Linked DNA regions of Homo sapiens: all the other regions are linked to region 1. Evidence: fine-mapped expression QTL. A gene starts in region 1. Each other region holds a variant in brackets. All regions are shown on one strand. Distances are from middle to middle.

Evidence for each region. PIP is the estimated chance that this variant, and not a neighbour inherited with it, causes the effect. A credible set is the group of variants that fine-mapping cannot tell apart.
Region 2: its variant is the best candidate, but not a certain one, in a credible set for the expression of GALNS in monocytes after Pam3CSK4 (Quach 2016, PIP 0.78).
Region 3: its variant is the best candidate, but not a certain one, in a credible set for the expression of GALNS in monocytes (Fairfax 2014, PIP 0.58).

The regions. Positions count from the first base shown.
Region 1 is chr16:88,852,068-88,862,009 of GRCh38, reverse strand. GALNS (galactosamine (N-acetyl)-6-sulfatase) reads left to right here and starts at 5,063. Exons shown (of 14, transcript NM_000512.5): 1 at 5,063-5,252. The coding sequence starts at 5,133. TRAPPC2L (trafficking protein particle complex subunit 2L) reads right to left here and starts at 4,883. Exons shown (of 5, transcript NM_001318525.2): 1 at 4,827-4,883; 2 at 3,219-3,391; 3 at 2,260-2,347; 4 at 2,038-2,117; 5 at 1-1,096. The coding sequence starts at 4,859. The coding sequence ends at 1,051. It overlaps LOC107983950 (a long non-coding RNA gene), which reads left to right and starts at 5,430. Exons shown (of 2, transcript XR_933884.3): 1 at 5,430-5,559; 2 at 5,709-6,882. RefSeq lists silencers at 4,931-5,330, 7,000-7,069.
Region 2 is chr16:89,068,403-89,079,114 of GRCh38, reverse strand. It overlaps LOC105371412 (a long non-coding RNA gene), which reads right to left and starts at 8,076. Exons shown (of 3, transcript XR_933889.3): 1 at 7,342-8,076; 2 at 6,919-7,001; 3 at 3,138-5,755. The variant CAAAAAAAA/A (reference allele first, on the strand shown) is at 5,929.
Region 3 is chr16:88,817,747-88,826,241 of GRCh38, reverse strand. GALNS (galactosamine (N-acetyl)-6-sulfatase) reads left to right here. Exons shown (of 14, transcript NM_000512.5): 11 at 1,373-1,475; 12 at 3,532-3,653; 13 at 8,118-8,235. Among named protein-coding and RNA genes, the nearest start is that of APRT, 10 kb to the right of the region's middle. RefSeq lists an enhancer at 7,258-8,457. The variant T/C (reference allele first, on the strand shown) is at 4,319.

The DNA of each region.
Region 1 (9,942 bases):
GCTTCCAATTCACCCTGGGGCGGGGGAGGCCTGGGGCATGCAGTTTTCCCACACTCCTTGCTGATTTTTTCTTCTATAATTTCTAAAATTAACACTGTGCTTGCTAGATGGGATGAAAAGGCAAATATGTATCAAGAAAGTTCCCCTCCCTAGGTCCTGCCCTAGGCTGACCCCCCCTTACAGCCTTTCCTGCTGCAAGGGCTTCTGGGGTCCTCAAGGTCCTTGAGAAACTCTCCAGTCCTGGACCAGTGCTGGAACCAACTCCGGGGGGGTCCCCTCAGCGGGCTGAGCCTTGACCGCTGGACCCCAAGGACGCCGGCGGCACTGACGCCACTATGGGCTCGGCCGCTGCCCTGGGTGGTAGTCAGCCACGTCATCAAGTGACACAGCACCCAACCCCCTCAGCACCAACAGGCAGGAGGGGGTGCCTCAAGTCTGCGCTCCAAGGTTTAGGACCAGGGCTGCAGCTGAGCCAACGCCGCGGGGCCACGAGGCTTCCCAGGTTTCACAAGGGCTCCTTTTAAGGCCGGGCGGAATCCAGACATTGAGCCAGATGCAAAGAATGGAGGCCAAGTCCAGAAAGAGGAGGGCCCTCCCCTGTGGGAAGCCACGCCGGCTCCCCTTGTGCCCCTAGATCCTAGGCTGGTTCTGGGCTCAGGAGGCCACCCCCTCCAGACCAGCCCACCTGTTCAGCCAGTGGGTGACCCACATGGTCACAGGTCCTGCAGGCTCAGGAACTCTTGGCTCCAGGCACCCCTGCCTCTGCCCCTTTGGGACAACTGAGGACAGGCTACCTGCGCCATCTGATCCCAAACCTCTGCCCACACCCCAGAAAAGTCCTTAGTTGAATTCTTCTTAATTAAATCCTTGGCTGACACGGAAGGAAAAAGCCAAATCTCCTCTCACAAGACCTTTAGTTGAGAGAACATGCACAGCTGCCTGCCCTGAAAGCCCCAGGCGTCCCATTCAGGAAGAGGCAACCAGAACAGACCGACGGCCCCACCACAGTCGTGCGCGGGCTCCTCTGCGATGGCTGGCAGCACAGCTCACTCAGCACACCTGTATCATCATCGACGTCACCATGTTATCAAAGGCCCTGCTAAGAGAAACAGACCCACTCAGAGGAGAGCCAGGCCCTCCACCCCTCTGCTCAGAGACGGGCCGGGCAGCATGGCTCCATCCACAGGATGCTCGGGACCTTCTCCAGGGTCCAGAAATGTGAACTCCGCTGAGAGGCCAGGACAGGAGTCCCACCCCACCGGGCACTGAGAACCCATCTGCTGCCTCCAAGTTCCCTGTGCAGCCTCCCAAGGCCCCAGGAAGGGGTGGAGGAGGGAGCAGCATGGGCAGGCAGAGCGGTGGTGTGGCAAGGATGGCCCTGTGCAGCCCAGGAGGCAAGACTGTGGACATTCGCCTGCCTGCTCCCATCTGGGACCAGGATGGCCCCAAGACAGTGTCCTGGTGGAGGGAGGGGCCTGCCTTGGATCACTGCAGCGTCCTCTTCCCTGCCAACCACAGGGAATTATGTCTTGGAACTGGGGACTCACTGAAAGCAAGTCTGGAATGTGGGCATGGACCCCACATTTCCCTCATGATGTTCAAAAGTTAAATCTGTTTACTTTGTGGACTATTCGGAAGACACCTGCAAACCAGGTTCCTGACTGTTCCAAATTCAACATAAAAGATCAGGTAGCTACAAAAGGACGTGTGATCCCTGAAAGCCACTGCCCATGTGCTTGGCCCTGAGTCCTGCAGGTGCCCCAGGTACCCACTGGGCACACCTGGGAAGCCAAATGGGCAAGCTCTACTCCCCACACCACACACACTCTATCCACTTTATGCGCTGGAGATCTGTGTAAGAGTTGGTGTGGAGAAACGGGGCTTTGTGGCTTTAAAACCTCTGCCCTAGGGGGATGGTGCTCATAGCTTAAAAAGATCTTTCCTCCCTTATTTTCCAAATGGTTGCATTTTGGCAACCAAAATGGCAAGGCATGTCCTACAGAAAGAAGGTGGCAAGACACAGAAAGTAGGGCCCACCTGGACTGGATGCGGTCCCCCGGGTTGTAGAAGGGGTTGCACATCACGTCTGTGTAGGAGTTGTGTAGCTTCCGGAACATCTGAAAAAGACCCAGCAAACCATGACCTTGCCACATACACACAGCCACTGCCAGATTTTTAGTTTCTCAGCATTTCAAAACAAAGTCAAAAAGGAAAAACAAAACACCCACTCGGGCGTGGCCCTCTAACTCCCTGACTTACGCTGCGAATTTCGTTGTCTCGAAGGGCTGTGTTGGAGGAATCTACCACCATGACAAACTTCACCTTGGAGTTGGTGACGTAGCCGTATCTGCACAGCTGGTTAGGGAAGGCACTCGTAACACAGGGACTGCCGGTGGAGGGCCCTCTGTGGGCCCTCACTTTGGAGAAATGTGGCAACCTTGAATCACAGGAAATGCCCATGCTGGGCTGGTCCTGCAGTGGCCGTGCTGGGTACAAGCCTAAATACTTTGCTAGGGCGACGTCTGGTGTTTGCAGGAGAAGCGAAGAGCAGGCAGCCAAGCCTTACCCAGTTCACACTCCAGGAGCCGAACCACCTAGACTCCGAGTCTGTCTGTCTGGAACACCTCACCCTCTTCATGAATCAATGCCTGGCCCGGAAAGTTAACTGCAAAACCAGAGGCTTCGTGAACAAGGCGGATCCCCTCTCTAGAGGCCACATTATTTTGTAAAATAGTGGCTACTAGCAAATGTCACCATGGACAGGCTACATGATGACTTTTGGGAAGGTCTTTGAATTCCATGGCCTCAAGTGATTTGTCCCAAGGGACTAGACGAGTGTCTAGTGACATAAGAGGCAAGGCCTAATGAAATAAATGAAACTATTATCCCCTGCTCAAAGGTGGTGGCTCCCCCTGAAAAGCACAGAAAGAAATCCTTGCAGGTACAAAGCAGAAGTGTCCCACTTCCTCTGCAAACCAGACAACGGACACGTGCAAACCAAAACATTCTACGGGGAATTCTAGCCTTGCTTTTCCCAAATGGCTCTTCCAATGAAAGAGAAGAGTTACAGGCCTTCATTCACCTCAAGCTACCCTAATTCCCTGGCTGGCTAAAAACTCTCACCTCTTTTTCTTCTAAAAGGTTTCAAGTTATCTGATCCTAAAGTACATCTTGCAACTGTAGGTCCTCCCTGACACACACCCTGCCCTGAAAGATACACCTTGTAGTCCTCCGTGGGGTAGAGCAGGCCCAGGTACAGCTCCCTCTGGTCGACCAGGGCCTTCCCCATTGCGGAGATCTTCTCATCCACCACGTCCAGAGATGTGTGCACCATGTAGTGGAACTTCAGCTCGTTCTCCGTAGGGGTGCTGCGAATGTAGAGGGGGTAATTCTGCAAGAAAGGATGACGGCGACTGAAAGGACAAGACTCCACCCAGCGCACACCAGCTCTGAACTATGCTGCAGAGCCGTGACCTGCAGCCACCCGGGGAACGCATTCCCATGCTCTAAGGCCCACCGCTTCATTCTCTATGCCGCAGTGGGCACTGCCTTCAGGGGATCCCAGCTAACCTAAGGAGATTTATGTGTTGTTTGCAAAGCAGCAGCAGTAGGGTGGGCGGAAAAGAAAAAATGAATCAGAAAAATGGGCCTGAGCACAGCCTGCCGATCAAGCCTGGCACCTGGGCACGCCTCTCACCTTCTCCTGGAGGCCACTCTGCCTCAGCCCACCTCTAACTCTGCATGGCTCACCCAAATACAGCACCCTCAATACTGGCTTTTCTTCACCTTGACAGTGACCCTTTTACTAAACCCTTCAAGACTCAGCTCAAATTCCCTTCATCTCTGCATTTCTGACCATTGGAAGCCCAGAATTAACAGCTTCTTTCTCGGTCTTTCACACACCACCATTTACCCTGTGTGTGTTCAGCACTGGGTCCTGCACAAATACAGTGAACAAGAGTCCTCGCTACCCTCGTGGGGAGTGATACCTAGTCAATAAACCCACAAACAAGCAAATGATCATCTTGGCCAAGAGGGAAGCCCATGAGCAGCTTAGCAGCAGCCACCGCCCAGCAGGGAGCGGTCTCGAGTCTGGTCTCGGGAGACCCTGGCTAGGAAATGAAGGCTCCGTGCAGCAGGAGCGTGTGGGCAGCCACCCAGCTCAGTCTTAGCCTTCAGAAAATGCTTTCCAGTTGAAATGTATGTGGGCCAGTAAAGAGGATGGGAGCTGGGGAGAGGTGTTCCGCGTGCAAAGGCCCACAGGTGAGAGGGCAGAGCATGTCCAGGGAGCTGCAGAATTGTTTGGTTGGAGCGGAGAGTGCCAAGGGTTATGGGGGGAAAGGATCCCAGAGCAGGTTATTCAGACAGCATCCTAAGGCAACGAGAAGCCACTGCAGAGGTCTCAGGCAGAGGCGTGACAGGATCCGATTTGTTTTTAACTCGGCTCCGGGGAGACTGGCAGGAGGGCCGGGGCCGCCGTCCGCGGGGAACCAGCGCTGGACGGGAGAACGGGCAGAACCTGCTGAGGACGGAGGACGGAGGTAGTGCCCGGGACCACCTAGGTTTCTGGTGGGTCCTGGCGGGGAGGAGACCTGCTGCGCCGAGGGGTGCGTTCAGCAGCGGGACGGGCGAGCGCGGAACTGGGGTCTCAGTCAGGGTCTGCCTGGCGGCTCGTCCACCGCGAAGCCCCTGACCGCTGGAGCTCGGCGAAGGCCTCCTCCAGGTCCCATTTCCTAAGGTGCCTTCTAAGCCCAGGGAAGAAGTAGAAAGAAAGCGGAGAGCCGAGGATGGTGCGAGCCCGGACGCCCCACGCCGCGCGTACGCACCTCCTTGGCAATCACCGCGATGCACACCGCCATCTTGGGAGGCTCGGCGCCAGGCACCGCGTCACGTGACCCGCCGCTGGTCACGCGGCCTCCAAAGCCCCGCCCCATCCGCACACAGCTGGCTCAGGCCCCGCCCCACTGGTCACGAGGCAGTCCAGGCCCCGCCTCCCGTCCCTCCGCGGACTCTGGCCCCGCCCCGCGAGTCACGTGGCCGTCCAGGCCCCGCCCCGCAGCCCAGCCGGAAGGGCCGGCGGACGCTCGCTAGGTCGGCTCGCTGGCCGGGGCTCCGCGGCTCCCGTGGTTGCCATGGCGGCGGTTGTCGCGGCGACGAGGTGGTGGCAGCTGTTGCTGGTGCTCAGCGCCGCGGGGATGGGGGCCTCGGGCGCCCCGCAGCCCCCCAACATCCTGCTCCTGCTCATGGACGACGTGAGTGCGGGCGGTGGGACGGGGCAGGGCCGGGGTGGGGCGGGGAGGGGAGGGGCGGATGGAGGGAGGAGCGAGGTGGGGGAAGGGCGGGCGGGGTGGGGGGAGAGGTGAGGGGAGGCCCCTTGGGGAAGGGGGGAGGCCCCGCGCGGGGAGGAGGAGGGGGAGGGGACGGGGGGTATCCCCGTGCGGGGAGGGGGAGGCCCCTCGGGGAGTGGCCGCGGGGTCCAGGCGTGGGGTCTCGGCGGTCACCGATCACCACACGCGCTGCCACTGTGCTGCATGACCGGGACAGCGTCCTCCCTGGCAGGTGGGTGGCCGGCGTGCTACCGGGCCCTGCCTCCCCCGTCTGACCTTTCCCGCCCTCTACTCTTGGGAAAGGTGGGCGCGCAGCGTGGCCTCCCCAAAGGGAGGAAGAGGCTGCTCCTGCCGCCCTGCCTGAGAGCTGCGTCGCCCTAGGAATCACTCCCGCCACCTCGGGCCGCCGGGTCCCCCCGCTGGGCTCCAGTCTTACCTGACGGCTGTCTCTGTCCTCTGGAGAATGCTGAGCGAAGGTCAGGTGTCCCTAAGGTCTGAAGAACTGAAAGGCTGGAATGTCTCCTGGTGGGCAAGTGCGGGGTCAGGGGTCACAGCCAGCCTGGAGGCCTCCTTCCCTAACTCCTTGTGGGAGCCACCTGGAGACTCAGGAATGAGCCTGCCTGGGGCATGGGTCACCGTGCAGGACCCCAGACACACCTGGGTTGAAACCCTACTGTCTCCAAGCTTGGGGGTCACTTCCATTCTTGAACCTCAGCTGCCACACCTGGGGGGTTACACCTGTCCCGCCGTGCTCACGTTGTGTGTGAGGACTGGGACGACACCGAGTACCAGACAGTTTTGGGCCGTCGGTGTCGCTCAGCCCCTGTGTGCTGGCTCCGACCAGCAGAGACCCTGACAGGTGCCTTCAGACCCACCTGTGCTGACCAGTGGGGGCCACGGGCCACACCCAAGGGCTGGGCAGTCGTGGCTGTCGGAATTGGAAGGTGCTGGTAGTGTAAAATACACAGATTTAGAAGACTTGGTGAAAGAAAAATAATGTAAAATATCTCACTTAACAATTTTATTAAATTAATGGTTTTTTAACATAAAGATATACTTGAAAAGATAACAGACACCACCCATAATTTCCCCACCCAGGGGTGACAGCCGACAGTCCTGGGCAGCTGCTTTTCCATCTCATATGTCTTATTTGTGTGCAGTGACTGCTTTCCAGAGCACGCTCTCCAGCGCCCAGGGGTCCGTGTCCTGACAGCAGTAGCCGGGCCTTTCTCTGCACTGAGTGGCATCTCCCTCCTAAAGATACTTTGCTTCAGAATTTCATCCTTTCACTTTTGAAGTTCCTCTGGGCCAGTGTAGATACTTTGTTTCAGAATTTCTTCTTTTCATTGTGTAACTCCTTCTGGGCCAGCATAGCTTCGCTGGATGAGCTGGGCTCTGCAGGTGAAGCCTCCCTGTTAAGTTTCTGCTTTTCCTGACTTTCTCAGAGGACAGAGGGGTGAGGCGGGGCAGCTCATGAATAATTTTTTATGTTGAAGACTTGTCGAAATAATATTTTGGTTATGTTGGGTTAAATAAAATATAAAGTTAGTCTGTATTTCACCTACTTCTGCTTTTCTAATGTGGCTCCCGGTAAATAGGGAATTGCATGTGGACTCACCCTACGTTTCCATAGGACAGCAAGGGTTCAGGCCGTGCAGGGTGGAGGGGTGGGGTGTGGCCACCGGGGCACATGTGGGGGAGGGTGACAGGAAGCCCCGCCCACCTGGGCACCTGTTCTGTGGCCTCCACTGTGTGGCTTGTGGGGTCGTTTGGCAGCTGACGCCTAAAGAACCCCAGAGGAGCTGTGTCCTGGCCGGTAGGTGTACTTGTAAGGACTTTCTGATGCAGACAGCAGAAGATGAAGTCAAAGTGACAAGCAACAGTGGGGATTCCCTGGCCCTCCTGAGTCGACAGACCAGGGCCGCCTGGCGAGTTTCCCCTTTCGTGGCTCTGCTGCCTCTGAACTGGCCACATCCTCACTCAGCCTGTGATGGTCCTAGGTGACTCCAAGTCACCCCTGCAGTCAGCAGACCCAGTGGGAGGTTGGCTCTGCCCGTGTCATGTTAGCGTGATGTGGGTCTCAGCCCTGCGCCAAGCACACTGGGGGAGGGGCACATGCTGACCTGTCCAGCCCAGGCCTCGGAGCCTCGGGCCTACCCCAGAAGGGAGACTGCCCCTGATCATCTCATCTGCCTGGACCCAGCAGAGAGGGGGTTCCCTGAAGGGCCCATGGTGCAGCTGCCAGGACAGGGCAGGGATGCTGGCAGGTGAGAGCCACAGAAGCTCACAGTGGAGCCCCGAGGTGCCCTGACGTGGCCCAGGGTGCAAGGGGGTCCTCACAGGCTGTCTTCTCTCCTTGGAGTCCGGGGCTTCCTCCGCAGCCCTGTCCACACCTCTTCCTGCACTGCAGACCGGTTGTTTCTGCCAGGGCGCTGGCGTCTGAACCTGCAACAGGTCATTCGGCCTCTGGCATGACATGGGATGGCTTGATGACCCACAGCTCTGGGCCCAGCACCACTTGAGGACGAGTGTGCATGTCTCAAGTTCAGATTTTGGAGCATGGCCCTCCAGGGACCGGCTGCCTCCAGCCCAGTCTCCCCCTATCCAGTCCTCTGTGGCTGGGCAGTGGGGGGCCTGGGCCCCCCTTTCGTCTAAGCAAGTGCAGTTTCAGAAAAGGGTTGTCCCCAAAACTAGCTTATTGCACCCCTCATGGCCAGAAGCCACTCTCCAACTGGTCACACTGACCCGGGAGAGAACCATTGCCCCCAGAGTCGGGACCAGAAGGGGAAGCTGGGACTCAGGGGTGAGAGCAGCTGGCAAGAGCCCCCACCTGTCCAGGGGGAGCTGAGCCGGGCAAGGACGGGTCTACCTGCACTCCCCAGGGCTGCCCTGCCCTGGCCTTTCACTGACCCACGGTCCAGCGCGGCCTGGCTTCGTAGTACCCTGGGCACCTGCTGCGTGAGTGAGGAAACCTGCGTGGCCCACTCTGCTCTCCAGGGCTTCTGGGGCCTTGGAGACAGGTGAGACCCAGTGACAAGTTCCACTCTGGCCCACACACAGCTCCTGCCTCCCAGGGCGAGCAGCACTCTGTGTCTCCACTCCTTATTTGGAAAATAGGGTTAAGGAGGGTCAGCCCTGACCACAGAGGAAGTGGAGAGTCAGGGCCACCCAGGCCAGCTCCTGTTGCCACAGCAGCCTCGTCGAGCCACCAGAGTCCGGGGAGGGTTGCTCAGTGCCCCTCGTTTGAAACAGACAAGCACTGGCCTGCTCGTCTTCATAATAATCCCATAGCAACCAGTAGGAATGGAAACTGCGTTTCTTAAAACTCTGAAATTCTGAAGGATACTGATCCATGGCTCACAGCTGTGCTCGCTGAACGTGGACAATCATTTGGGGGCTTTTAGGCCTTTTTTTTTTTTTTTTTTTTTTTTGAGATGGAGTCTCACTCTGGTCACCCAGGCTGGATTGCAGTGGTGTGATCTCAGCTCACTGCAACCTCCGTCTCCCAGGTTCAAGCAATTCTCCTGCCTCAGCCTCCCGAGTAGCTGGGACTACAGGCTCCCACCACCGTGCCCAGCTAATTTTTGTATTTCTAGTGGAGACGGGGTTTCACCATATTGGCCAGTCTGGCCTGAAACTCCTGACCTCAGGTGATCTGCCTGCCTCAGCCTCCCAAAGTGCTGGGATTACAGGCATGAGCCACCACACCCAGCCAGGACTTTTTTTTTGAGACAAGGTCTGGCTCTGTCACCCAGGCTGGAGTGCAGTAGCTCGATCACAGCTCACTGCAGCCTCAAACTACTGGGCTCAAGCAATTTTCCTGCCTCAGCCTCCTGAGTAGCTGGGATTATAGCCGCCCATCACCACACTCGGCTAATTAATTTGATCTTCAATCACTGATACCCTTTCTTCCACTAGATCGAATCGGCTACTGAAGCTTGTGCATGCGTCACGTAGTTCTGGTGCCATGGTTTTCAGCTCCATCAGGTCATCTAAGGTCTTCTCTACACTGTTGATTCTAGTTAGCCATTCGTCTCATCTTTTTTCAAGGTTTTTAGCTTCCTTACCATGGATTCAAACATCTTCCTCTAGTTCGGAGAAGTTGGTTATTACCGACTTTCTGAAGCCTACTTCTGTCAGCTCGTCAGAGTCATTCTCTGTCCAGCTTTGTTCCCTTGCTGGCGAGGAGCTGCGATCCTTTGGAGGAGAAGAGGTGCTCTGGTTTTTAGAATTTTCAGCTTTTCTGCTCTGGTTTCTCCCCATCTTTGTGGTTTTATCTGCCTTTGGTCTTTGATGCTGGTGGCCTAAAGATGGGGTTTTGGCGTAGATGTCCTTTTTGTTGATGTTGATGCTATTCCTTTCTGTTTGTTAATTTTCCTTATAAGAGTCAGGTCCCTCAGCTGCAGGTCTGTTGGAGTTTGCTGAAGGTCCACTCCAGACCCTGTTTGCCTGGGTATCACCAGTGGAGGCTGCAGAACAGCAACTATTGCAGAATAGTAAATATTGCTGCCTGATCCTTCTTCTGGAAGCTTTGTCCCAGAGGGGCACCTGCCTGTATGAGGTGTCAGTGGGCCCCTACTGGGAAGTATCTCCCAGTTAGGCTACACGGGGGTCA
Region 2 (10,712 bases), 220 kb before region 1:
AAGGAGGAGAAAAACCATACAGCCATCTTGTATACAAGGGGGTCACATTCCCAGACCCCCAGGGATGCCTGAACCCCACATATCCGATGTGTTTTTGATCTGACAGCAGAGGCAGCTCCTGGAGGACTCACCGGTGCGGAGCGTCCACAGCGTGGACTCGCTGGACAAATGGAGGATCCCCTCCCGGGCGGACAGGGCGGGAGGTGTCAGAGTTCATCAAGCCGTGCATAATTTAAAACTTATGAATTGTTTAGTTTTAGAATTTTCCATTTAATATTTTTGGAGCTCTGTTGACCATGGATAACTGAAACTGCAGAAAAAGGGAAACCCTGGGCCCGGCACACCGGCTCACGCCTGTCATCCCAGCACTGTGGGAGGCTGAGGCAGGCAGATCACCTGAGGTCAGGAGTTTGAAACCCGCCTGGCCAACGTGGAGAAACCCTGTCTCTACTAAAAGTAAAAAAAAAATTAGCCGGGCGTGGTGGTGCATGCCTGTGATCCCAGCTACTCGGGAGGCTGAGGCAGGAAAATCACTTGAACCCGGGAGGCCGAGATTGCACTATTGCACTCCAGCCTGGACAACAGAGCAAGACTCTGTCTCAAAAAAACAAAAAGAAAAACAAACCCTGCTTAAGCGGGGATGTCTGTATTTTCCTGTTTCTTTTTCAGACCTTCATGTCCTTGGAGATACTGTCGGAGCTTCCTGGCAGCGTTGACCAAGCTGCCCCTCCCTTCCTGACAACCTTGGCCTCATCGCTCACCCTCTGGGCTCATCCTGCTGCGGGGTAACCAGGAGAGCCCCGGGGCAGGTGCCAGCCTTCAGGAGGAGCTCTGCCTCCTCTGTTCCAAAATCGGGGGAGGGTCCTTCCCACCAAGGGTGCCAGTCTTCCTTTCATCCAGGGCTCCTGGTGTCTCTGAAAATGCTGGAGATTTCAGTGAAACCCCAGAGGGGGCTCGATCCGACCTGAGGTGAGCCCTGGAGTTTGCCAGGGGTGGCTTATAGAGGCCCTCCGACAATGGAGTTCACCGGGGCGGCTTATAGAGGCCCCCCGACAATGGAGTTCACCGGGGCGGCTCGTAGAGGCCCCCCAGTAATGGAGTTCGCCAGGGGCGGCTCGTAGAGGCCCCCCGACAATGGAGTTCGCCAGGGGCGGCTGGTAGAGGCCCCCCGACAATGGAGTTCGCCAGGGGCGGCTGGTAGAGGCCCCCCGACAATGGAGTTCGCCAGGGGCGGCTGGTAGAGGCCCCCCGACAATGGAGTTCGCCAGGGGCGGCTGGTAGAGGCCCCCCGACAATGGAGTTCGCCAGGGGCGGCTGGTAGAGGCCCCCCGACAATGGAGTTCGCCAGGGGCGGCTCGTAGAGGCCCCCCGACAATGGAGTTCGCCAGGGGCGGCTCGTAGAGGCCCCCCGACAATGGAGTTCGCCAGGGGCGGCTGGTAGAGGCCCCCCGACAATGGAGTTCGCCAGGGGCGGCTCGTAGAGGCCCCCCGACAATGGAGTTCGCCAGGGGCGGCTCGTAGAGGCCCCCCGACAATGGAGTTCGCCAGGGGCGGCTTATAGAGGCCCCCCGACAATGGAGTTCGCCAGGGGCGGCTTATAGAGCTCCCACCCCCACAGCGGTCTTGCCAATGGCTGCGCCCTCTTTCAATTTCCAATGAGGGTCCGAGAGGTGCCGCGGTCACAGTGATGAAGGTGGGACCTGGGACTGGAGCCCAGCAACCTCCTGGACCCAGCCCTGCGAAGTGTCCTTGAGGCAGGAGCTGGGCTGGCTGCATGGGGGCCACCTACAGAGTCATTTCTGGCTGCCTTGCCCCGGGTCCGGGGCCCGACTCCATGAGTGTGGCTGACGGAGGCTCCAGGACGTCCTGCAGGGGGTGCAGACACGCCGGGGGCGCCCATCTCAGCGTCACTGAGTCCTGGGGCCTCTATCCTCCTGGAGAACCCCAGGGAAGCCGAGTGATGCCACACAAGGGCAATGTTGAATTTTGTTACTTTTAAACGTAGTTTATTTGCAAGCATGGACGTTATTATTGGTGACAAGTGACTTGGGAATAGTAGGTGGGAGCCCCTGTGGGCTCCATCCTCTGCTTCTTCTGTTCCTTGGCCGACAGGAGGCCAGCCTCCCTGTGGGCCCGCCCGGGTTTCCTAGGCCTTCCTCCCTGGGTCCCCAAACCCCTGACAAGTCACTCTGGGCTCCAATCCTCAACTGCCAACTTGGAGCTTTGCTTTGGGGACTGAGTTGGCTAACAGCTCGTCGGGAGCCTGGAGACCTGAGGCCATGGGTGTCCCTCCACGGGCTGGGCTGGGAGTGGAGCCTCCTCAGGATGTCTCCTCTGCTCACAGGTAGCACAAGCAGGCCCCAGGGCAATGGTTCACATCTGTGCTTGTATGAGTGTGCACGTGCTCACACAATCAAATGCTCACACACAGACGTGTGCACTCACACACGGATACAGCCAGACACCCATATTCCACATGTGCACACACTCACACAGCCACATATGACACCAACCACATGCCCACACGCAGATATGCATGAGCACACACAGACAGTGGACAGACATGTGCGTGCACAGCCACCTGCCCACACACACACACACATTCACATGCACAGTGAACGCACACCACGTACGCTTGTATGCCTGTGTTCACACACCTATGTACACGAGTACACATGCTCACAATGGACAAAGCCACACACACTAACACATGCAGACACTCACATGCACTCATGCATCCGCTCACAGTGACACATGTCACATGTACACATGTGCACACACACGTGCTCATATGGACACACCCACATACATTCACAGACGTGCTCAGTGTACACACTCGCATGCCTGCACATACACAATGTATGCACACACATGTATACACCCTCACACGGTCACACGTGCACACACGTGCTCATATGGACACACCCGCATACATTCACAGACGTGCTCACAGTATACACACTCACATGCACGCACACAATGTATGCACACACATATACACCCTCACACAGTCACACATGTGCACACACACGTGCTCATATGGACACACCCACATACATTCACAGACGTGCTCACAGTGTACACACTCACATGCGTGCACATACACAATGTATGCACACACACATATACACCCTCACACGGTCACAGGTGCACACACACGTGCTCATATGGACACACCCACATACATTCACAGACGTGCTCAGTGTACACACTCACATGCATTCACATACACAATGTATGCACACACACATATACACCCTCACACGGTCACACGTGCACACACACGTGCTCATAGGGACACACCCGCATACATTCACAGATGTGCTCACAGTGTACACACTCACACGCATGCACACAATGTATGTACACACACATATACACCCTCACACAGTCACACATGTGCACACATTAACACACCCTCGCACTCGCATGCATCAACTCAGCTCTCACCATGAACCCACTGCAGCTGGCAGCACAAAAGGTAAAATTAATCGGCAGCCGGGAGGGTGGGTTGCAGTCACGTGGCCGTCAGCCGCAGACATTGCATTTCAATCAAGGGTGCAGAGTTGTTGGGAGGTGCCCCGGCTGGAGGCCTGTCTTTTGCTCCACTGGGCCCAGCACAACAATGAGCCCAGCAAGAGCGTCAGTGGCGAGGGCGGTGCTCTCACTGGTCTCCTTGGCCTCCTGGCTGCAGCCACACTGGGCCAGACCTTCTTTGTTCAGCAGGCACTGGTGACGCCTTCTCGACGCGGACGTGAGGTGTGTTTACACACTCAGTGACCTGGGCTGGACATAGCTACGGCAGGTACCCGGTAGCAGGGATGAGGCCTCTTGGGCTGGCCGTGACACCCTCCCCTGCAGCTCCAGCTGCCTGCCTGGGAGGAGGGGCTGGCCTGGGTCTGTGACAGCCACCCAGCAGCACTGCAGGGCCATGGGGCTCAGAAAATGCAGAGGCATCCCCCGCCCTGCCCAGGCATAGGATTGGCTGAGGCATCCTGCCTTCAGCCGGGTCCACACGTGACACGTCCACACGTGACAGGCCCACAGACGACAGGACCACACAACAGGTTCACACGTGACAGGTCCACACGTGACTGGTGCATGCATGACAGGTCCACACGTGACAGTCCACACGTGACAGGTCCACATGTGACAGGCCTACAGATGACAGGACCACACGACAGGTCCACACGTGACTGGTGCATGTATGACAGGTCCACACGTGACAGTCCACACGTGACAGATCCACACGTGACAGGCCCACAGACGACAGGACCACACGACAGGTTCACACGTGACAGGTCTACACGTGACTGGTGCATGTATGACAGGTCCACACGTGACAGTCCACACGTGACAGGTCCTCACATGACTGGTCCACACATGACAGGTCCTCACGTGACAGGTCCACACGTGACAGGCCCACAGACGACAGGACCACACGACAGGTCCACACGTGACTGGTGCATGTATGACAGGTCCACACGTGACAGTCCACACGTGACAGATCCACACGTGACAGGCCCACAGACGACAGGACCACACGACAGGTTCACACGTGACAGGTCCACACGTGACTGGTGCATGTATGACAGGTCCACACGTGAGAGTCCATACGTGACAGATCCACACGTGACAGGTCCTCACGTGACAGGTCCACACGTGACAGGCCCACAGATGACAGGACCACACGACAGGTCCACACGTGACTGGTGCATGTATGACAGGTCCACACGTGACAGATCCACACGTGACAGGCCCACAGACGACAGGACCACACGACAGGTTCACACGTGACAGGTCTACACGTGACTGGTGCATGTATGAGAGGTCCACACGTGACAGTCCACACGTGACAGGTCCACACGTGACAGTCCACACATGACAGGTCCTCACGTGACAGGCCCACAGACGACAGGACCACACGACAGATCCTCACGTGACAGGTCCACACGTGACAGGTCCTCACGTGACAGGTCCACACGTGACAGGTCCACACGTGACAGGTCCTCGTGACAGGTTCACATGTGACAGGTCTTCACGTGACAAGTTCACACATGACAGGTCCACACTCAACTGGTGCATGTATGACAGGTCCACACGTGACAGGTCCTCACGTGACTGGTGCATGCATGAGTCGTTCATGACATGGCTCATCCATGACATGACTGGGCCGTGTCAGTCCCAGCTCCCTACGGAATTTCGCTGACTGTGCTGGCTTCCAAGGCCGTGGCGCCTGCTCCCTGCGACACGGCTGCTGTGAGGACTCCTGCACACATACTACTCAGGAAAGGCAGCAACAGGGTGTTGTGAGCACACAGTGTCTGTCTTGGGAAGAAAAACGTAGGTTTTCTGGGAGGGAAATAGGTGGGTGTAGTTGTTTCCCGCATGGGCCGTGACCAAGTGCCACACGTGGGTGTGGAAATGGTGCTGCCGTTCTCCACAGCAGCAGCTCTCATACCCGCTGGCGTCCTGCAACTCGATTCAGTCCCGTCACCACCCGTGTGAAAGATCTCAGCGTGTCACACCCTCTCTAAATAGAAGCTGGAGGCCACGAAGGAGGGGTCCGCACATGTGGGGAGCGCCCGTGAGAAGAACCATGTGAGAGGCCGGGTGCGGCGGCTCAAACCATGTGAAGGCCGGGTGTGGCGGCTCACGTCTGTTATCCCAGCACTTCGGGAGGCTTAGGCAAGTGGATTGCTTGAGCCCAGGAGTTTGAGACCAGCCTGGGTTGGTCCAGGTCGAGACCCCGTCCCTATAAAAAAATTTAAAAATTAGCTGGGCGTGGTGGTGCCCACCTGCAGTCCCAGCTACTCAGAAGGCTAAGGTGGGAGGATTGCTTAAGCCCAGGAGGCAGAGGCTGCAGTGAGCTGAGATCCTTCCACTGCACTGAAGCCGGGGTGACAGAGTGAGACTCTGTATAAAAAA[CAAAAAAAA/A]AAAAAAAAAAAAACGAGATTCCTCGGGGCCACCGCACTCCAGGTAAGTGCCCTGCACAAAGGCAGCTGCCTGACACCTTGACAGCCAGGGAAGGCCACTCCCGATGCGCCTGGCCGTGCAGGACCCGGCTCTGCTGTGCCTCTGAGCCAGCCTGCGCCAGCGTTGTCCTGCACCTCACCTCCTGCTTTGGGAAGCCCAGGAGGACACCCATCGGAAGCCACCACAGTCAGGCTTGGCGCGGGGCGGAGGCTGCGGTGAGGGTCACGACTTCAGCTGACTGGGGGGGCCACACGGAGCCTTGGGCTCTGTGCTTCACCCGCTTTTCTTACTCGTCCTCCCAGCAGCCCTGCGCGCTCAGAAGCCTCAGGGCCTCCACTTCCAAGAGAGGAAATGGGTGCCAGGTTGCCCGGCCCAGGCTCCCGGTGTGACAGACGTCACTTATCATCTGTGATAGTGATAGGGACCACTCTCACCCACCAGCACCCACCCCTGGGCCAAGCACCCAGTCACTTGCAGGTGCAGCTCTCCTGGGTGCCCGGTGACATGGTGGGGAAACAGATTCAGGGAGATTTGCAGACTCGGGGGGGCCCCAGCAGGTGGCCAGGAGGTTGGTGGGTGGAGGGGAGCTGTGTCCGGTCACGGACTGGGCCACCTGCTATCGGTGTAGGGACAGGGCCCACTCCTCCCTCTCCCTGGCTCCCCATGAAACTGGCCCCTGGGAACACCTCTGATCCTTGTGTTTTTATTTAAACGCTCCCCAGAGCACATTTGTCTCGAGTACCAGGGGCATCTGGATTCAATCAAAACGACAGCTGCGCAGTCTGGCCCCGGCCATTCCAGAGTGGGCGTGGAGGCAGCCAGTCTGCTGCAGCACAGCCATCCTTGTACCCCCTCCCCAGGTCCTGCTGGGCCCTTGGTGCCTCGGTGTCCCTTCCTACACGGCTCCCCACTGTCCCCGAGGAGCCAGCCAGCCCCCAGCACCTCCTGTCCTTGTAGACCACAGAGTACGAGGAAAGAAACGCGTAGAGCCAGCTCCGGCCAGCGACAGTTGAGACTGATGGTGCCTGAGTGGGAGAGAGAACAATAAACCCGGAACTGAGGTCTTTTCCGAGACAGCACTGGGCTTAGGGATTTACACAACATGACCCCATTCAACTCCACAAGCCCATAAAGAGGGGCCCTGACTTCCCTGCTTTACAGCTGAGGAAAGTGGAATGGGCAGGTCAGGGTGTGGTGGCCCCAGCTGGGAGCACTTTCCCCTGCCGGCCCAGGAGGTAGGAAGAGAGCGGAGCCAGGAACACCGCAGCAGAGCCCAGGACACCCGTGGGGTCCAGAGTCGGGAAAGGAACCGGGAGGGGGCGGCAGAGGTGCGGAGGGGAGAGGGGTGTTGAGGCCTGGGCTCACTTGCTCTGTGATCTCCAGGAAGGCCCCGGCCTCACTGAAGCTGAGTTTACTCATCTGTAAAATGGGATGAACGTTGGCACCAACCGCATAGGGCAGGAGGATCAAATGAGAAGGTCGGGAGGGATGCAGGCCCCCGCGCAGCCAACGCCGTGTCTGTCTTTCCTCTGTCTCTCGCGGAGGCTGGGTTGGCTGACTGGAGAAGAGAAGCTGGGGAGAGCAGCCGGACCCAGTGCTCACCCGGCTGCCCTGACCTCCAGGAGCATTTCCCGGAGGATACAGGCGACCTCGCTCCTGTTCCATCTGTGGGGACGAGTAAGCAATGTGGTGGTGGCTCTGCCCAGAGTGAGCACTGTCCTGGAAGCCTGCACCCTGAGGCTGGTTCCCGATGGTTCTGCCTTCCCCAAAGCGGCCGTTCCTACCAGGCCGGTTCCCCTGCGGAAGCTCCCAGTGAACACCCGAAGCCTCTGCCACACCCCTCAGTCACAGCCCCCGAGACCGGGTAGGTTTGCCTGTGAGCTGGGCGGGTGCCCCAGGAGGGCAGACCTGGACTCCAGCAGCAGAGGAGAAGAGATGTGGCGCCAGGGGGGCAACCAGTGGAGCCACAGCAGGCAGGCAGATGTTATCCAGAAAAGCAAACCCAGGCAGAGTGGTGGGCAGCATAGCTCAAATCCAGGCTTTTCACCCCAAGTCCAGAATGTTCTGCTTTGAGGCAGAGGGAGCAGGCGAGGCAAGGGTGCTGGCGGGGGCGAGGGTGGCGTTGGGGGGTTGAGGACGGCGGCGGGGGGGTGAGGGCGGCGGCGGAGGGTTGAGGGCGGCGGCGGGGGGGTGAGGGCGGCGGTGGGGGGGCGAGGGCGGCGGCAGAGGGGTGAGAGTAGCTGTGGAGGGTTGAGGGCGGTGGCGGTGGGGGTGAGGGCGGTGGGGGTGGTGAGGGCGGTGGTCAGGGGTGAGGGCGACAGTCGGGGCTGAGGGTGGCAGCAGTCAGTGGTGAGGGCGCTGGTGAGGGCAAGGGTGGTGGTGCGGGGTGAGGGCGGCAGCGGGGGTGGTGAGGGTGCTGGTGGAGGGCAAGGACGGCGGTGGGGGGGGCAAGGGGGGTGGGGGTAAGGGCCATGCCCCTTGCTGCACCGAGGGACCCTGGCACACCTTGGAGGGATCCCCCTCCCACCAGCCAGCAGCACCCCTAGGGTGCCCGGCTGTCCCTGCTTGAGTCCTGTAGACTCTGGCCCATCAGGGGCCACATGTGGCTCTGCTCAGCCTGGGGGACGAGCTCATGGTAGACAGGGAGGGGTACGGGCAAAGACGCCCCCAAACTGCCCGCATGGGGAGAGAGCCTAGCTGGTGGGTGGGATGTGTGGCTGGAAGATGTGGGCTGCAGGCAGGCCCCACTGGTGCAGCTGGAGTTCAGGCTCCCCAGAGCCAGATTCCAGTTGTTGAGTCTCCCCCTGAGACCTTGCTCCATTCCCAGGCAGACCCTCCCACCCTGGCCCACTTATAGATGCCCTTCAAGGTACAGCTTAAATCTCGCCTCCTGCCTCAGACAGCTCGGGCTGCTATAAGAAAGGACCACAGGCTTGAGGGCTTATACACAGCAGACCTCTCTGTCTCACAGTTCTGGAGGCTGGAGTCCAAGATCAAGGTGCTGGCATGGTTAGGTTCTGGTGAGGGCCCGTTTCCAAGCTGCAGATGGCCAGATTCTCGCTGTGTCCTCGCATGACGAAAAGAGGGCTGGTAGCTCTCTCGGCTCCCTTTCATGAGGGGAGCGGTCTCATTCACGAGGGTCCACCCTCATGACTTAATCACCCACCAAAGGCCCCACCTGATACCATCACTCTAGGGATAAGGATTTCAATATATGAATTTGGGGAGGACAGAAACATTCAGTCCACTGCACCTCCTGCATAATTCCAACTCCTTCCAGTGGGGGTGCACCCTGTGCTCTGAACTCAGCCTCTTCCCCCAATTTCGTGAGATACTGTGTGAAGCAGCATGGCTTCATGGAGCAAGACAGCGCAGCAGCTGTGGACGTGGGCTCTGGACATGGGCTCCAACTGGAATGTGTAGCCCCGAGTCCCTGCTCTGCCACTTACTGACTGTGTGGTCTTAAGCAAGTTACTTTCTCTCTGCTTCACTGTCCTCACTCGCAAAATGGACACAGTCATTGGCTTATTGTGAGAATTAAATGAGTTAATATGTATAAACTGTCAAGAACAATGCCACCACAATCATCATCATCACCATCACCACCATCATCATCACCATCATCACCACCACCACCATCATCACCATCATCATTGCCATCATCACCACCACCACCATCATCACCATCACCACTATAATCATTGCTATCATCATCATCATCACTGCCATCAACATCACCACCATCATCATCACCATCATCACCATCACCACCATCATCATCACCATCATCACCACCATCATCATCACCACCATCACCACCATCATCATCATCACCATCACCATCATCATCATCGTCACCATCATCACCACCATCATCATCACCACCATCATCACCATCACCACCATCATCATCATCACCATCATCATTACCATCTCCACCATCATCATCACCGTCATCACCACCATCATCATCACCATCACCACCATCATCATCACCATCACCACCATCATCATCACCACCATCACCACCATCATCATCACCACCATCATCATCACCATCATCACCACCATCATCATCACCACCATCATCATCACCATCATCACCACCATCATCATCATCACCATCATCATCACCATCACCACCATCATCATCACCATCATCACCACCATCATCACCACCATCATCACCACCATCATCATCATCACCATCATCATCACCATCACCACCATCATCATCACCATCACCACCATCATCATCACCACCATCATCATCACCATCATCATCGTCATCATCACCATCATCATCATCGTCACCATCACCACCATCATCATCACCACTATCATCACCACCACCATCACCATCATCACCATCCAGGTTGAATTTCCAGCTCCTTCTCTACTAGCTGCATGGCTTCAGGTGGGCTACTAAACCTTTCAGTACCTCGGTCTCCTCTGTGAGTGGAGGTAACAATGCTTCCACTCCCAGGTACCTCTGAGGATGAACGTGGCTAACCTGTGTCCCTGATACGACAGTGCATGTGGGTAGTCACTTCCTTGCACCAAGAACATGCGCAGAGTATCACCTCATTTGGTCTTCTCAAGGACCTGGGGGGTGGAAGTATTCCTATCCCTATTTTACAGATGGAGAAACAGGCTTGGGTAATGCAGGATTCTGCCAAGGCCTCAGAGAGGTCTGGAGGAGCTTGGAGAATGCCCAGAACCACCTGTGGCTGGAC
Region 3 (8,495 bases), 35 kb after region 1:
CCACCCCTGTTGCCTGCCTGTACCTGGGCACACGCCGCCCCTGCCCGCCCCACCCCTGTTCCCTGTCTGTAGCCCGGGCACACGCTGCCCCTGTCTGCCCCACCCCTGTTCCCTGCCCAGCCTGGTTTTTGGTGCCTCATGGCTTCCTGTAGCTTCCTTCTTCCTTCCATCCAAGTCGCTGCTCTGCCAAGTCCATGGCCCAGCTCTTACCTTCTGTCCAAATCCTTAGTGTCCAAAGTCCATTTCCTACCCCCTGAGAGCAGCCACCATTCCACTCAAACCACGTTTCCTGGGTGGTCCTGAAGGGATGAGGATTCCAAAGGCTCAACGGGAAGCAAGGTGGGGACGGCCCAAGGCAGCTGCCGCCTCCGGCTATCTGGGGCCGGGTAGAGGGAGTTTTGCTCACTTGTCCCCTCTCGAGACCTGGCACAAGTGGTTGGTCACTGTGGGGAGAGACGGTGCCCAGCTGCGTCCCCCACTCCCCGTTCCTGACTCGCAGGCCCAACATGGTCAGGAGACCCCGTGCCGCCTGCTTATCCTCTTGTCTGCCCACCCTCCCCAGGGTCTGGCCCAGCCTTGCCAAGGACCAGCAATGAGGGGACGCCCAGGCACCCTAGCCCCGGCCGCCCAGGCACCCCAGACACCCAGGCACCCCAGCCCCAGCTGCCCAGGAATCCCAGTCCCGGACACCCAGGCACCCCAGCCCCGGCTGCCCAGAAACCCCAGCCCCAGACATCCAGGCACCCCAGCCCCGGCCGCCCAGACACCCAGGTACCCCAGCCCTGGCCGCCCAGGCACTCCAGCCCTAGACACCCAGGCACCCCAGACACCCAGTCACCCCAGCCCCGGCCACCCAGACACCCAGCCACCCCAGCCCCGGTTGCCCAGACACCCCAGCCCCAGACACCCAGGCACCCCAGATACCCAGTCGCCCCGGCCACCCAGGCACCCCAGCCCCGGCTGCCCAAACACCCAGGCACCCCAGCCCTGGCCACCCAGACACCCCAGCCCCAGACACCCAGGCGCCCCAGACACCCAGGCACCCTAGACACCCAGTCACCCCAGCCCCGGCCGCCCAAACACCCAGTCACCCCAGCCCCGGCCGCCCAGACACCCCAGCCCCAGACACCCAGGCGCCCCAGATACCCAGTCACCCCAGCCCTGGCCACCCAGGAGCTCCAGCCCCGGCCGCCCAGGCACCCCAGCCCCAGCCACCTTGCGGGCCTTTTTACTTTTCAATCATCTTTGTAAAGTATCAACCAAGACCTCACGTGGAGGCATGAGCCACTGATGACAGACGCAGCCCAGAGCCTCCAGGTGGCCCCAGCGTGTCCTTCCTGTCATTACATGGTCCTCCCCTCCCATCCCACAGGCCTATCTTCTATTACCGTGGCGACACGCTGATGGCGGCCACCCTCGGGCAGCACAAGGCTCACTTCTGGACCTGGACCAACTCCTGGGAGAACTTCAGACAGGTACAGGGCTCGGGACGTGGGCGCAGGCGGAGCTGCCCCCATCTCTATCCAGACGTGGCCCCTGAGCACCGTCCTGGGGGAGGCACAGGAGGGTGAGACAGGCAGGAACTCCACCCCCTCCACAGCCTTCTCTGTGTGGCCCCCAGTCGTTCAGCGTGGCCTAGGGCATGGCAGCTGACAGGCTGGAGAGGAGGGAGGGACCTCTTCCTGCCCCGCGTGATGACAGTAGCCCCGCGGCATAGCTACAGGCGTGGCCTAGACCCTGGTCAGGTGGCCCCCATGGGCCTCTCCATCCTGCCAGGGCATCTGAGCCTCCCCCACACCCCAGGCTGGAGGCGACAGAGACGTGGCCTGCTTGGCCCAGGTGCTACATGGGGGCCGCAGCATTGGCATCACCACAGCAACCCCCAGTGTGGGAGGGTGAAACGCCACACGCACAGGGCCTGGGGCTCCTGCCGCCCCAGGCTACCCCAGCATTGTCAGCGCCAGGCTTTCTCCCACGAGCCCTCGCCTCAAGCCTCCTGCTCCCTCCCCACGGTCTTTTCTGGCCCCTGCTGACCCCTACGCTCCAGCATCCCCCAGCCCCTCCTGAGAGGTCTCTCTCAGCCCCACCCACTCCCAGCATCAAAGTCTTGAGATATGAACCCCCTGCTAATCTGCCTTAATTGGGAAGAAAATCATTTAGTGTAATGGAGAGTCTAAAGACTGGAAGTGAGAACTGGGGCTGAGGGCTGAGCACCCAGGCTGAGGAGGGAAGCTGCTCGTGGGGCAGTGTCTGGAGGGCAATGATGCCCAGGAGTGTTTTGGCTCCTCCCCACCCTGTGCAGGCCCCGCACCCGCTCTTCTTTCGGGTTTTACCCAGCACTGTCACCTGCAAGGGCCATCCTGGGCATCGGTCCCCGGCATTGCCGCCTGTGAGGGCCGTCCTGGGCATCGGTCCCCGGCATTGCCGCCTGCGAGGGCCGTCCTGGGCATCGGTCCCCGGGCATTGCCGCCTGCGAGGGCCGTCCTGGGCATCGTTCCCCGGGCATTGCCGCCTGCGAGGGCCGTCCTGGGCATCGGTCCCCGGCATTGCCGCCTGCGAGGGCCGTCCTGGGCATCGGTCCCCGGCATTGCCGCCTGCGAGGGCCGTCCTGGGCATCGGTCCCCGGCATTGCCGCCTGCGAGGGCCGTCCTGGGCATCGGTCCCCGGCATTGCCGCCTGCGAGGGCCGTCCTGGGCATCGGTCCCCGGCATTGCCGCCTGCGAGGGCCGTCCTGGGCATCGGTCCCCGGCATTGCCGCCTGCGAGGGCCGTCCTGGGCACAGTCCTCGGACGAGCCCCTTGGCCTGCAGCACCCGCTCTGGGAATGTTAGAGGCATACCTCGCCTTTCCCGAATCAGGAGGCCCAGGGGCAGCAGAAAGAGAATTGTGGTTACTGTAAAATCCTTGCCCTTCTTGAGTGTGTGAATCTGTGTCAGCTCCCTGGGTCTGTTTTTGTTTTCTGTGTTTTCTCTTGCCTTTCACATGTTGGTCCTGCTCCTCCCTGTCTTAGGGTTTCTGTAGGGATTCTGAGCGTTGTGGCTCTCCCTTCTCCCAGGGCAGGGCCTCCCTTCCCGTCCCTTTCCCTCCCCTCCCTTCCCCAGCAGAGAGTAGGCTGTTAAAAGGGGCTTTCCTCCATGAAATTAGTGGCAGTCCAGATCTGAGGCTGGCTAAGGTGTTTTAAATACACTCACCTGCCTCGCAAAGAAGAGGGGTACATGAAAACAGGGTACGTGAGGCATGCCAGCTACGCATCTCGGGCCCAGAGCGGGTGGCTTCACCTCCTCCACAGGATGCTTATGGGCCCGCTAGTCCTTCAGCGTTTAGCCAGCGCCCTGCACCATGCTGAGTACCAGGGACGCTGCTAGGCACAGGCAGACGAGACCCCCCCACGGCCCCCAGTTAGGGGCTCCAGGACACAGGCAGACAAGGCCCCTCACGGCCGCAGTCAGGGGCTCCAGGACACGGGCAGACGAGGCCCCTCACGGCCGCAGGTCAGGGGCTCCAGGACACACCTTCCCTCTTCTCATTGCAGGGCATTGATTTCTGCCCTGGGCAGAACGTTTCAGGGGTCACAACTCACAATCTGGAAGACCACACGAAGCTGCCCCTGATCTTCCACCTGGGACGGGACCCAGGGGAGAGGTTCCCCCTCAGGTGAGTCGGTGCAGGGCCTCCTGGCTGCTGAGGCAGTGCCAGCCGGACTCCCCCAAATGCAGGCTCCACAGGGACAGAGCCCTCTGCACCCTGCCCGCCGCCTCCCCTTGCCTGCATCTGCTGTTGCTATTCATACCCACACGTGCTTGGTGGCCTGCCCTCCTCCCAGGGTGCCTGCTGCTGCCCACCCTGGTGGTCTCCCCACTTCTGCCCCTTCTGGGCCACCATCCACCTGGCCCCCAGTGATGTATCCCCTACTCTGAGCTGCATTTGGGGATGGCTGAGGCCAGAGGGGAGGGGTCCAGGCCCTGGGGCAAGTAGGAGGTACAAGGACACAGGTCAGCTAGCAGGAGGAATGGCAGAAAGCCACCAGCCCCAGCTCCACCCTCTGCTCTCTGGGCCTTGTCCTCACCCCACCGAGGATGCCGGAGTCTGCGCCATCACCTGCCAGTTTTCAGGGAAGCCCTCCCCTTACCCTCAGGAGTCTTGAGGGTCATGGTCGCCAGTACCAGACTCACCTGCTGGCAGCTCCTTAGGGGCGACACAGAGGCCCCAACACTTGGCTGGAGACCCCGCCCTGGCTTCCTTTTTTTTTGTCCGAACCCATCTCCCTGGGCTAGGGCTACCTGGAGGCTTCCCCCCCTCACCCCAGCAGGATGAGCAGG[T/C]CCCCAATTCCTGCTCCTGGCCTGGGGGTCCTGGGGCACGTGCATGCCTAGTGGTCTCCAGCATTCCTGCCCTATCGAGTTGGTCCTGGGAAGACCCAGGAGCATCAGGGGAGTGGCGTGCAGAGGCAGAACCAGGCCTGAGCACAGCGGTTGCTCCCTGCCCAGGCTTTCTATGCTCCCCGATGGGCCTGGGTTTGAGTAGGGCCGGTGGGAGGCAGCAGAGAGCAGTACAGGACCGAGGGTGGCAGCACCACCGCCAAGGTGCCCTGAGGCTCCTGCACCCTCTGGACGGGGCAGCCGCCTTCCCACGGGGCTGAGCCTGCGGTGAGGCTCCTGGGCTGCAGCCCCTCAGGGATCCCTTGGGCACTTCCTCGGCAGCACCTCTCCTCCACCGAGCGTCCAGCTCAGAAGCCCAGGATGGTGACTGCGGGAAGGCAGCATGGAGCCTGGAGTGGACAGCAGTGTCCCCAGGCCCAGGTCCACCCACACCTCCCAGCTTGGCCTGAAGGGAAGTAGGGCCTGTGCCTTGTGATTAAGGCACGGGTGGCGCTGGGTCCAAGGCCAAATGCCCTGAGTCCAGAGGGAGGAGACACAGACATGGTGAAGGCCACGGGACGAGACGGGGACTGGACAGAGCGCCACCAGCCTCGGCTCACCTGGGGCCACTGGAGCTGGAAGAGGCAGGAAGGAGCCCCAGTTCCTCCAGGGGTGCACAGCCCTGAGACCCTTGGTTTCAGCCTCTGGCCTCTGGAAAAGTGAGGGGCATCTGCAGTTTCATTGTTTTAAGCCCCAGTTCATGGTCATATGTTGTGGGGGTGCCGAGATACAGAGACAGACGCCCCCGGGGGACTCGTGATCACCCATGGGGGTGAGACCCGTGAAACCATGGGGGGCCTGGAGCTTGGGGCCTTGTGGAGCTGGAGGGGCTGTCTGGGAGCCCCCTGTGCCCGCAGAAGTCACTGAGGAGCCAACAGCCCCCCCAGCTGGAAGCGCCGTCCCAGGGGGACCACGGGGAGCAGATTGCAGGCCCCAGTTACACAGAACAAGCTGCTGGCCACACCGGTGCCCGCCACACCCCCCACAGGCTGGTCGCTCCAGGGACCACCCGAGGTTAAAGCCTGGATGGCGGTGCCCCCTCGCGTCCACTGGGCGTGATTGGCATCCACAGGGGGGTCCTCAGGGCCACTGCTCCCCGCCTGTTGCGTTTGCTGGAGCCCCTCCAGCCAGGCCAGAGCAGAGACACAGTCCCACCCACCACAGCCACCCAGCCCCGCCCTCACAGCTGGAGAAGGCAGGGTTATTTCAAAGCAAACCCAGGCAGCAGGCAGAGCTTCCCAGAGGGGGTCACAAGGAGGCCCAGCTGTCGGCCATGCCTTTGAGAACCACTGTCCCTGAGGTCACACACCCATGACACAGCCTGATTCACCGTGGGCTGCTTCTCAGACACAGACACACATGTCACTTTGCCAGGAGCCTCTCTAAATTAAAGACGGGTGGCCGGTCGCCATGGTTCATGCCTGTAATCCCAGCACTTTGGGAGGCTGAGGTGAGTGGATCACCTGAGGTCAGGAGTTTGAGACCAGCCTGGCCTACATGGTGAAATCCCATCTCTACCAAAATACAAAAAATTAGCTGGATGTGTTGGTCGGTGCCTGTAATCCCAGCTACTCGAGAAGGTGAGGCGGGAGAATTGCTTGAACCCAGGAGGCGGAGGTTGCAGTGAGCTGAGATCGCACCACTGCACTCCAGCCTGGGTGACAGAGCAAGACTCCGTCTAAAGAAAAAAAGACGACGGGGCCAGGCATGGTCACTCACACCTGTGATCCCAGCACTTTGGGAGGCCGAGGTAGGAGGATCTCTTGAGCCCCAGGAGTTTGAGACCAGCCTGGTCAACACAGCAAGACCTTACTGGTACAGAAAATAAAAAATTAAGGCCGGGCACAGTGGCTCACACCTGTAATCCCAGCACTTTGGGAGGCCGAGGCAGGCAGATCATGAGGTCAGGAGTTCGAGACCAGCCTGACCAACATGGTGAAACCCCGTCTCTACTAAAAATATAAAAATTAGCCAGGCGTGGTGGCGGGCGCCTGTACTCCCAGCTACTCAGGAGGCTGAGGCAGGAGAATCGCTTGAACCAGGGAGGCGGAGGTTGCAGTGAGCTGAGATCATGCCATTGCACTCCAGCCTAGGTGACAGCGCGAGACTCTCTCTCAAAAAATAATAATTAAAATTAGCCAGGCACAGTGATCTATGGTCCCAGCTACTCAAGAGACTGAGGCAGGAAGATCGCTTGAGCCTGGAAGGTCAAGGCTGCAGTGAGCTGCTGTCTCACCACTCCAGCCTGGGTAACAGAGCAAGATCCTGTCTCTAAAAAATAAATGAAATAAACAAGATTAAAGCAACAAGCCAGGCCACGGCCTTCGGGGACGCTCACCGTCAGAAAGTGCACGTGCAGTTCACGCCAGTTCTCAACCAGCAGTATTTGGCCACAGAATCCTGCAGAAACACAAATGCACCTGAGACCCTCCTGGATTAAAAATGGACCCTGTGCTCAGGGGCGCTGTGTGAAGCCCAGGCTGGGACCAGGACAGGCATCTCCGCGGGCACCAAGCGGGGAGCCCTGAAGGACCCCAGCTCTCCTGAAGGTCGCCCTCTGATGCAACCCCAGGCCTGAGGCCTAAGCAGGGAGTGGGTGGATCGAGCAGAAAGAGGCTGGGGCAGGTGGCCGGGGGTGGGGAGGGGGGCGCATCCCCGTCCCTGTTGCATGCAGCTTCCGTGTGAAGCCTCATTTTTAGGGAAGGTTCTGGAGCAAAAAGCCAGTTCTCACAGACTGCTGAGCGTCCAAGGCAGAAGACTGGGCTTCAGTGGGTCCGGGCTCACCTCCCAGAAGGTACTGGGCCTGGACAGGTGCTGCCATCAGGAGGGGAGCTGACTCACCTGGTAACCCCGTCTCTAGCTTTGTAAGGAGCTGCCACACCACCTTCCAGAGTGGCTGCTCCGGTCCACGTCCCCACCAGCAGCAACGCAGCTCCCAGCCTGGGCATTGAGAAACTCCAGCTTCAGCCACACTCGCAGAAGTTCCTCCCTGCATCTCCGCTATGGCAGCGATGGCAGGTGTCTTTTTATGTGGATGTTGTCGATATTAGAAGTGATTGAAAATGGTGAAAAGGCATCATCTGTGCAGATGTCCTCAGAGCACAGCATGACGGCGCCGTGGACCCAAGATTCACAGCATCGCAAACTGCGGCCCTGACATCGCGAACCGTGGCACCTCGTCGAGCCGTGTAATCGTATCTTCGTGAAGATGAAAGGAATCCAAACACTCCGCAGCTTGCATTGGAATTTTAGAACTGCAGATGCCGTTCCCCTCCATTTCCTGCTTTTTGGCAATGGGATGACGTTGCTTTTGTAATGAAAGAAGGGTGTGTCATATTTGTAAATGTTTACGTAGTAGTGAGTGCTGGGGAGACCCACAGGCCCCAGCCCACATATCCCGGGTCCTGGTCACAGGCAGGGACAGGATGGGACGGCTCTACTCACAGCCTCTCTGCCAGGGCTTGGCCTGCTGAGCCTTCATTTCCTCTCTTGCCCGTGAGTCTGAGGGCAGAGGATGGCTCGGGTGCCTGCTGCCTGTCCTAGCGAGGCCCGGGGCCGCTGCAGGCTTGAGCACATGGTCCCAGTGACTGCTCACTGTGGTTCTCAGCCCGTTAGAGCTCTGCAGCCTCAGCCTGTCCAGGCCAGCCCCTCTCCGTCCTTCGCTGTCAGCCCCAGCCGTGTGACCAGAGCTCTCTGTCCCCAGCTTTGCCAGCGCCGAGTACCAGGAGGCCCTCAGCAGGATCACCTCGGTCGTCCAGCAGCACCAGGAGGCCTTGGTCCCCGCGCAGCCCCAGCTCAACGTGTGCAACTGGGCGGTCATGGTAAGTGGCTGGTGTGTGGGCGGCCGTCTCTTTGCCGGGGCTGCAGCCACCCACCCGGGGCCCAGGATGAACCGTGGCCAGCACAGGGCAGAGGCAGGCGTGCTTCCCCGCCTCCGTCAGTGGTGAGGCCCTCGTGCCTCAGAGCACACGCGGCGGCGTCCGGGATTCGGGAGGCAGGAGCCAAGCGACTCGGGGACCAGAACAACGCTGCACCAGGGCAGCCGCAGGTCCACAGCCGGCCACCCGGGCCTCTGCCTGGC